2 linked regions of the Homo sapiens genome follow. The protein of the gene in region 2 interacts with the protein of the main gene of each other region in a pairwise test. Each region holds a gene or a part of one and is shown on either strand. Other genes may lie near its edges.

Region 1 (3,500 bases), on a different chromosome or scaffold from region 2:
GCTGAGGTGGGAGGATCGCTTGAGCTCAAGAGGTGAAGGCTGCAGTGAGCCATGACAGTGCCACTGCACTCCAGCCTGGGCAACAGAGTGAGATCCTGCCTCAAGAAAATTTTTAAAAAGTAAAGAATGAGGCCAGGCGCAGTGGCTCACGCCTGTAACCCCAGCACTTTGGGAGGCTGAGGCGGGCGGATCATGAGGTCAGGAGTTCGAGACCAGCCTGGCCAACATAGTGAAACCCCGTCTCTACTAAAAATGCACAAAATTAGCCTGATGTGGTGGTGGGTGCCTGTAATCCCAGCTACTCGGGAGGCTTAGGCAGGAGAATCACTTGAACCCAGGAGGCAGAGGTTGCAGTGAGCCGAGATCGTGCCATTGCACTCCAGCCCAGGCAACAGTGTGAGACTTTGTCTCAAAAAAAAAAAAAAAAAAAAAAAAAAGTTAAGAATGATCTAGAGCTTGTAAACTTCTCTTGGACACAGTGAGGGCTTTCAGTACTTGTTTTTGTTTTTGAGACAGAGTCTCACTCTGTCGCCCAGGATGAAGTGCAGTGGCCCAATCTCGGCTCACTGCAACCTCTGCCTCCCGGGTTCAAGTGATTCTCCTGCCTCAGTCTCCTGAGTAGCTGGGACTACAGGTGCGTGCCACCACGCCTGGCTTTTTTTTTTTTTTTTTGTATTTTTAGTAGAGACGGGGTTTCACCGTGTTAGCCAGAATGGTCTCAATCTCCTGACTTCATGATCCGCCCGCCTCACCCTCCCAAAATGCTGGGATTACAGGTGTGAGCCAATGTGCCCGGCCTCACTTGTTTTCCGTACCTATCTCACCCAGCTTCATGGATTGTACACAGCAGTGCTCAATATAGGCTTGTTTAACTTAATCAGGCCTATGCAACAGCCTGGTGGGATCTCACAGTGGGATCCTCCTCAAGACCTCATTTGCCCCTGCCTACAACCACAAAGAATTCAAGGCAGTTCCTACCAGGAAACAATGTGAGATCCCAGAGTCCTGAGACTGGGATGGGATTCTTGGAAAGGTAAGTCTAGGAAGCATGGGTCCAAAAGGTTTTGGGAGGGAGTAAGTGGAAGCTAAGCTTGGAAGAATCTGTTCATTTTTCTGAGTTTTTTCTTTCTTTCTTTCTTTTTTTGAGACAGAGTTTCGCTCTTGTTGCCGAGGCTGGAGTGCAATGGCACAATCTCGGCTCACCGCAACCTCTGCCTCCTGGGTTCAAGCGATTCTCCTGCCTCAGCCTCCTGAGTAGCTGGGATTACAGGCATGCGCCACCATGCCTGGCTAATTTTGTATTTTTAGTAGAGATGGGGGTTTCTCCATGTTAGTCAGGCTGGTCTCGAACTCCCGACCTCAGGTGATCTGCCTGCCTCGGCCTCCCAAAGTGCTGGGATTACAGGCGGAGCCACCACGCCTAGCCTTTTTTTTTTTTTTTTAATCAAAGATATTATAGAGAAATAGAAGAAGAGCCAGGAGACAACTTTGGGCATCCAGGACACTGGCTTTCCCCGGCTCTTCCAGAACCAGCCCCCTCCCTGGGATAAAGGCGGAAAGGGATTTTCTGTGCCACTATTTCCAATGGAGGAGTGGTCCTGAAGTTCTGTATCAATAGCCACTTGCTACCAAGTCAATGAGAAGAGAAAAGAACCTGCCTGGTAGAGCACACCTCCTCATTGCTAGGTCCCTTCAGCATGAAATTTCTATATCTATCGGGGTCCAATCTCCAATCCCATCCTAAGACCTACAATATCAAGGCTCCTATACAGATTCAGGATCTGGTGAGGGGGGAGCTTTCAAGAGGAAACAGGATAGAAAAACCCAAGAGTCAAGGTGGTGGAAGAAGAAGCAAGGATCCAGGAAACTGCCATCCTAGTCTACACCCCTCCTCCCGTCCCTTTTTTTCTTTTCTTTTCTTTTTTTTTTTTTTGTGATGAGGTCTTGCTATGTTGTCCAGGCTGGTCTTGAACTACTGAACCCAAACCATCCTCCCACCTTAGCCTCTAGAGTAGCTGGGACTACAAGCACACACCCAGCCTAACATCCCTTTTTTTTTTTTTTTTTTTTTTTTTTTTTTTTTTTTTGAGATGGAGTCTTGCTCTGTCACCCATGCTGGAGTGCAGAGGCATGATCTTGGCTCACAGCAACCTCCACCTCCCAGGTTCAAACGATTCTCCTGCCTCAGCCTCCTGAGTAGCTGGGACTACAGGCACATGCCACCATGCCCGGCTAATTTTTGTATTTTTTTTTTTTTTAGTAGAGACAGGGTTTCGCCATGTTGGCCAGGCTGTTCTCGAACTCCTGACCTCAGGTGATCCACCGGCCTTGGCCTCCCAAAGTGGTGGGATTACAGGCGTGAGCCGCTGCGCCCCATCCTAACATGGCTTTTGATAATCACCCCCACACAAGTCTCTCTGCGGCCCTTACTGCTCTCAGCCACACAGCCTCCCTCAGGAGAATGAAGGTTCATCGAACTCACCTTTCTGCCATCTCATAAAAGATCATCCGGTCAAAGTTGCTGGTGTGCTCCCACTCCTGCACAGCCAATGGCAGTCCCTCCTCCAGGGTCATAGTGGGCTTCAGCCGGGCCAGGGAACGAAGCACTGGGCTAAAACCCCCATTGAGTCAGTCACATTCTAAAAGTGTGCTCCCATCCACCTGCCCTGACACCTACATCAATAACACATCCCCTGCCCCTCATCAAATCTATTGTGCCCCTTAGGGCCTGTCGTGTCCCACTTCTGATTAGACTTACAGACGCTCAACCTCCCATCCATTCATCTACCATACTCGCCCCTCTTCCTGTTGAACTTTACAACTAATATAAAATCAAACAGACAATTCTTCTCCCCACCTTTTAAAATCAATGGCAACTACCACCCCTAATTATCACAGTGCCATCCTCAATTAATTATTAGAAAGGGAGGACTCGCGTTATTAAATGAATGGGATTTGCTATAAAGTATGTTTAACCTTGTCCAAAGGCTCTTGCATTTTTTCTTTAAAGGCATTTGCTAACCCAAAGGAATCTCTAATTAAAGGTCATGTGGTGTTTTTATTTATTGGTTTTTCAGTCTTTGTTTCCAGATATTCCCCACAGACAGTTAAATGCCAGTACTAGACCCCCACTTCTAGAGGGCTCTTGAGCCCTTCCTAATCCAGAAGAAATCAAGAGCCCAGCCTAAAGCAAGGGCTTCATTTTTGTCTCTCTGACTCCCTTGGAGTCCTCAGACATTATTGGGCATCAGAATCGCTTGGGGAAGCTCGTTATAATCAACTTGCAGCTCCCCAGGATCCCACAACTGAGCATTTTAGGAGCTTCCCATGTTGCAGTGGTCTGGACTGCCTCTTGTGGAAGACCCTGCCCAGAGCCCCTGAGTGTGAAGCACAAGCAGACCAGGACCCAAAGCAAATGGATCCCATGCAAACCTTGAGAGCCCACATTGGTTCAAGATTTTGAAATTTAGCCTGCTAGGCTCCAAGAGCGAACTCAGATC
Region 2 (5,413 bases):
TCCTGTAATCCCATTACTTTGGGAGGCTGAGGTGGGAGAATCACTTAAGCTCAAGAGTTCAAGATCAGTCTGGGCAACATAGGGAGACCCAATATCTATTTTTTAAAAACCTTAAAAAAAAAAAAAAGTAAAGTAATCACCTGTATCACACGTCTGCTCAAGCCTGTCCTTTCTGCCAATTTCTGGAGTGTCTGTGCATCTGGGTTGTTGTCCTGAGCAAATTGTGCTTGCATAACCTGTTGTTTAAAACATGTATGTAGTAAATAGCTAAAAACAAGCAGCTCAGTCTTCTTCCTGCATTTTTATCATAAGAGGTAAGACATGCACAAGAACATGGGATACTTTTGTTACTTGAAAATCGGTATGGGGAAATATGGGTAAGTGAAAACGAATGCATATTTTGTAAATTTATACACAAGTTGCTATGCTGAGAACTTTAAAAAAATCCATTTCAATGTAAAACTCTCTCAACTATGCTGTTAAAAATAAGCTCACCTTTTCTTTTCTTTCAATCTTATAACCCACAAATCAAATAGCAAGAGTTTCATTTATTGTTTTTTCCATTTTGTTAAAAACTGCCAACATTTGAAAACTTAATACAAAAATCATATCACATTTGTCTCCAACCTTTCCTGAGCTAAAGATGTTCAAGGCCCCTAATACCTAATAGTATACAGATCAACAGAAGGATTCCACTTAATTGTAACAACTCCATCATAGTTTTGAGCACTAGCTCTATGCAAAAAAAAAGGTGTCTAAAAAGAGACACTCACCAGTCCACTGAATAAGAATTTACCAGAGTCTAAACATGTATATATTTTAAAAGCTTACAGGTGATTCTGATGTAAGCCTTTGGATTGAAACCACTATGCCAAGTGCTAAGAGATAGTGAAACATGAAACAAAACTCTTTGGATTTAATTTCCTGGCAGAAAGATGCCGACATGCCAATGACTACCTATAATAAAAGATAAAGGGAGAAGAGTAGTGTGGGAGAGAGTACCAGAATATAAGCACAAGCCAAAAACTTTGAATTCTTTCAGAAAAGAGAATCATTATGAGAATTAAGTGAGATACTTGAATTTTATTACTAAAAGTCAGTCAACTGAGGGAAGCATTACAAAATGTAAAAAATGTATTATTATGAAGAATGAGAGAGAAGAGCTTGGCACCCAATGTGATTGTGCTTGTCTACAGGCATAGGATGTGGGTAACCAATCTATTAAAGACCTCAAGCACTGCTGGACTTCACTCTTTTCAGCAGGCAAAATTAATTGCATTCTCCACTATGCTCCTCATATAATGCTATCTTCTGCCACTGCACTTGTCACAGGGTAGCTAAATAATTTGTTTTCAAGTTTATCTCCATAGTGGAAAGTGAGTTCCTTGAGATCAAGGGGAATGTCTTATTTTTCGTATCCCTAGGAGTTAAACTCCCTTTCTGTCAGAGAGTATGTTAAGAGTTTCTGACAGAGTAAAACTTGGCAATGTAAGGAAAATCTGAAGACAGTGTAGAAAAAAAGGCCAATATTGTTCTGGGAAACCTTCTGAGGTTTACAAATTTTGAGATTTACAAATTTACCCTTCTAGAATTAAGTATTCTTGGCTTCCCATCTAACTATATTGTATCTACAGACTCACTGTAAACAGAACATGGATTTTTGCTTTTAAAAAAGGGCAGAATTGGCTTAAAAGTTTATTCTTGCTCAGTTCACTTTATTCTTTCTTTCCTACTCCAAATGTGTTACTTTGGTATCTTCCTGTGAAAATAGAGTTATGTTTCTATGCAGTTGAACATGTAATAACCCCAAAAAGAACGAGCAAATTATGTCTTTGTTTTTTAATTTTTCAAATAGAAAAATGTTGAACAGATTTGGGGATTTTGTAAGGTCATTATTAATAATTTACAAAACAGAAACTTCATGCCTTTCATAAATGCATTTTTAAATTCACAAATTTAACTGCAATCAAATTGTATTTAGTTAAGTAATTTCTCATTAAAGAGTAAAGCAAAACAACTCTGATCATTTAGAATTGAAATATTCTAAAGGAAAAGTAAGATGAGTTGATTGTTCTTCCTTTCAATAGTATCAATGATTAGTCTCACACACACAAAAAGAAAAAAGAGGTACTTTTAATTTCTACTTAGTTTCACTATTCTCTAGGCACTAATGCTGCTGAAGCCTACTTCACTCCTTTTCCAAGTTCTTCTAACGTGGACAAGGAGTGAGCCTCTGTAGACACTCATCATTTTTAGGCCAGGAGATCTACCAGAAAAGTCAGGAGGCTGCATAGCAGTAACTCGATCTGAAAACAGACTAAAGCAGGAGCTAACTTTGGCGTGTTTAATATTAATAATCACTAAGTGAGTGCTTCTACATAGAATAAGCAATCCATAATATTAGCAGGAAATTCTTAAATATCATTTCTACAAATGGGACGGTATTTGAAATATATTTGCCAATACATCCTCTGAGTCTTAAACTATTTTTTCTCCCCATAAATCTCTATAGAATAATTTTGGAAAATTTTCTTATTTATCCCTTCCATTTTAACTCTCCTCTGTCCAAAGCAGGTACTGACTAGATAGTCTTGACTTACTCACTGGTCACATGTAATATTTTATTATCTTGCCAAATTCAAGCTCTAGTTGAAAATATTCAGCATTCCTAAATGTAGGAGAGTTTGACAATAAGGATACCGATTTATTAGAGTGTCTGGCTAAAATAAATGATTCAGTTTTTTAAAATATCTATTTCAGATTCCTAAATTATAAAGAACCACTTTAGGACAAAGATTGTATCTCATTTGTTTCAGCCACCCCTTCCATAAGATAAAATGCTAATAAATATTGAATGAGAATATACTTTGAAAGCATATTACCTATGCTTTCATCAGTAATCTGAAAATGGTAATATGCTTTCATTTTTTAAAACCTATAATTCTGATATACAATTTTTAAAACTTATGATTTAGATCACATTTACATACCATAATGTAAGGCTTAAATATTTTATGCATGTTTAACCATAAGGCTATCTACAAGATTCAAAATCTCACTCTTTTGTTTTAGCTGCTGCTGCTATTAATTGGAGTTTTGATAAGACAGACTTCCACTCATGGTCTCCTGGAAGATCAAGCAAAATGAAGAGACCAGATGTTTGAGGAGAAGGTTCCAAATCTCTTCTCAACCACTCCCTTGGTGGTTTGCTTTGAGGAGTTCCTGCACTCTTGAATGAGGTTTGTTGTAAAAGTTAAAGGAGATAAAGTAGATAAATGCCTGGTATAGGATTTGGCATAAAAAGACCTCCACAAATATTATTCCCATTTTATTTAATTAGTATTTGTAATTATTTTCCCATAGAAAAGTGTCTATCTACAGTGGTTTCAAATTTTCACAATTTTATTTTTAATAATAAATTATTATATCAAATGAAAGTTATCAACCTTGTAATTATTAAAATTACAGCCAGTCCTTCATGGGAACAGACCATTGTGAAAACAGATTTATATTAGAGATTCTATTTTAACTAGACACCTTTAGTGACTGAGTATTTTTCCAGGTCTTTCAGAAGTACTCACATCTTCTGACAGGGCATTGTGTGATCTTCATAATAATCCAATGAAGAACCCAGAAAGCAAGGCTCAAACAGAGATATTTCTTTCAATTGGCTTATCTTTCATTTTTTGCTTATTGACTATGTACTTTATGCCTAAATTAAGAAATCGAATTTATGCCTAAATTAAGAAATCTGAAACAATCATCCATTTGGAAAATTCTTCTGAATGGATCTAGATTTTAATGCTAGAGTGCTTCCCATTGCCACGTTCCCTTGGAATATGTGTGTCACATCAAGGTTTCTTTTCTAAATCATTCTCAAAATAAAAATTATCTCCTGAAACACTTGTATCCATCTTAAATACTGGCAGGTCTTAGAATACTAAACGTGATTTTCGAAAAAGTTACTTTTATTCATTTGTTAACACTGCATAAATGTCCTTTAAAGTCTGAGCTAAGATGGATACTATGTATAAGGTACCCAGCAGTGTGATAGGCGTTCAACAAATGTTACTTTTCCTTAACATGAAACAAATACCTCAGCCACATTAATCTTTTAGAAAATATGATTTCATTATCTGCAAAAATGCCAGAAGGAATCATTATATAGGTTTATAAAGCAAAGAGTAATTTAATTATTTTGATAATTTGTATAAATCAAATTTATAACAATCATGTTTAGGGCAACTAAGCTAAAAAAAATCCCTCCCTTTTCAGGGGACATAATAAAACTTTAATATCAAATTATAGAAGTACTCCCTTTACCACCTTTAAAAACATAAAGGAATCTGCTCAATTGTAGTCAACCAGTAGTTTCCTATTTACTTTAAGGCACTTTCAATTATTTCCTACTCAAAAACTGTACAATTGTGTTCATTAAATGACTCATTGCAGTTTGTTACAAAGACTAACACATTAGCGTCCCATAGACTCACATGGGACATGTATGTCTCTCTTCAGAGTCTCAAAATATTTTGTCTTCCATTGCAATTATGTGTAGTAATATAAATGCCTGGTTCAGAACGATGCAATCAGGAAGTCAGGACAAAATACTTTGTTTCCACTTTGATGTTGATACCAATAGACCCCAGGGAAACAAAACTTGAATGACTATTTCATATTATATTATGATGCTAGAAATGCAAACACTTTAGGGCAATAAGTATGTTTTCATATATTCACCAAATTAGTTTTCATAAAACACATAGGCTAATTTTTTAGAAAACATAAAAATGTTTTTGGGCAGCATGGAGGTTACTTTTTGTTTTTTTGGTTGGGAGGGGCTTCAAAAATAAAAAATTCATTGTTATGCTTACCTGAAGCTGATCTGCTGTAAAGCTGGTCCGAGCTCTTTTTGCTGGTTTTGGATGGTTAACATCTTGCTCTGTGAGGAGGGCACCTTCCACACTAATCCCATTCCCTGCATTTAAAAAACACACTATATATGTTGGTAATTCAAATGGGTACACCCATCTTACAATAACAGGTTTCTTATATCTCTTGGCTTTTTGTGTAACTGTATATGTTTTCTAGACGGCAAAACCCCTTAAGTTTTAAAACATACTACAGATATACTGTACAAAAAATATTCCACTTACAGACTTGTATATTTAGTGAAAAGTTCAAAAAGTTAGAAGTACACATCTAAGGCCCAGCAAATACAGGAAAACAACTATTTACAAAAAGAAAAGCAAAACCCTAACTCAAAGCTGCTGCCTGAGAATATGGCACAAAACTAATACATACACCATGGCTTTCCTTGTAAATAAACAAATAGAGACCATCACAAACAGTAGAGTACTTAATGAGTTTTACCACACTTATACATTGTACAAAATAATGCATTAAGATGACC

The links. The genes of interacting proteins can lie anywhere in the genome.
Region 1: the proteins of LHX8 (region 2) and NUTM1 interact in binary tests that used the Homo sapiens proteins (3 or more experiments, as listed by UniProt).

Annotation. Positions count from the first base shown.
Region 1 is NC_000015.10:34,349,815-34,353,314, reverse strand, and holds part of NUTM1 (NUT family member 1), read right to left. Parts: intron 2,612-3,500; coding exon 2,483-2,611; intron 1-2,482. UniProt on the Homo sapiens protein: Plays a role in the regulation of proliferation. Regulates TERT expression by modulating SP1 binding to TERT promoter binding sites.
Region 2 is NC_000001.11:75,143,410-75,148,822, reverse strand, and holds part of LHX8 (LIM/homeobox protein Lhx8), read right to left. Parts: intron 4,979-5,413; coding exon 4,875-4,978; intron 237-4,874; coding exon 141-236; intron 1-140. UniProt on the Homo sapiens protein: Transcription factor involved in differentiation of certain neurons and mesenchymal cells.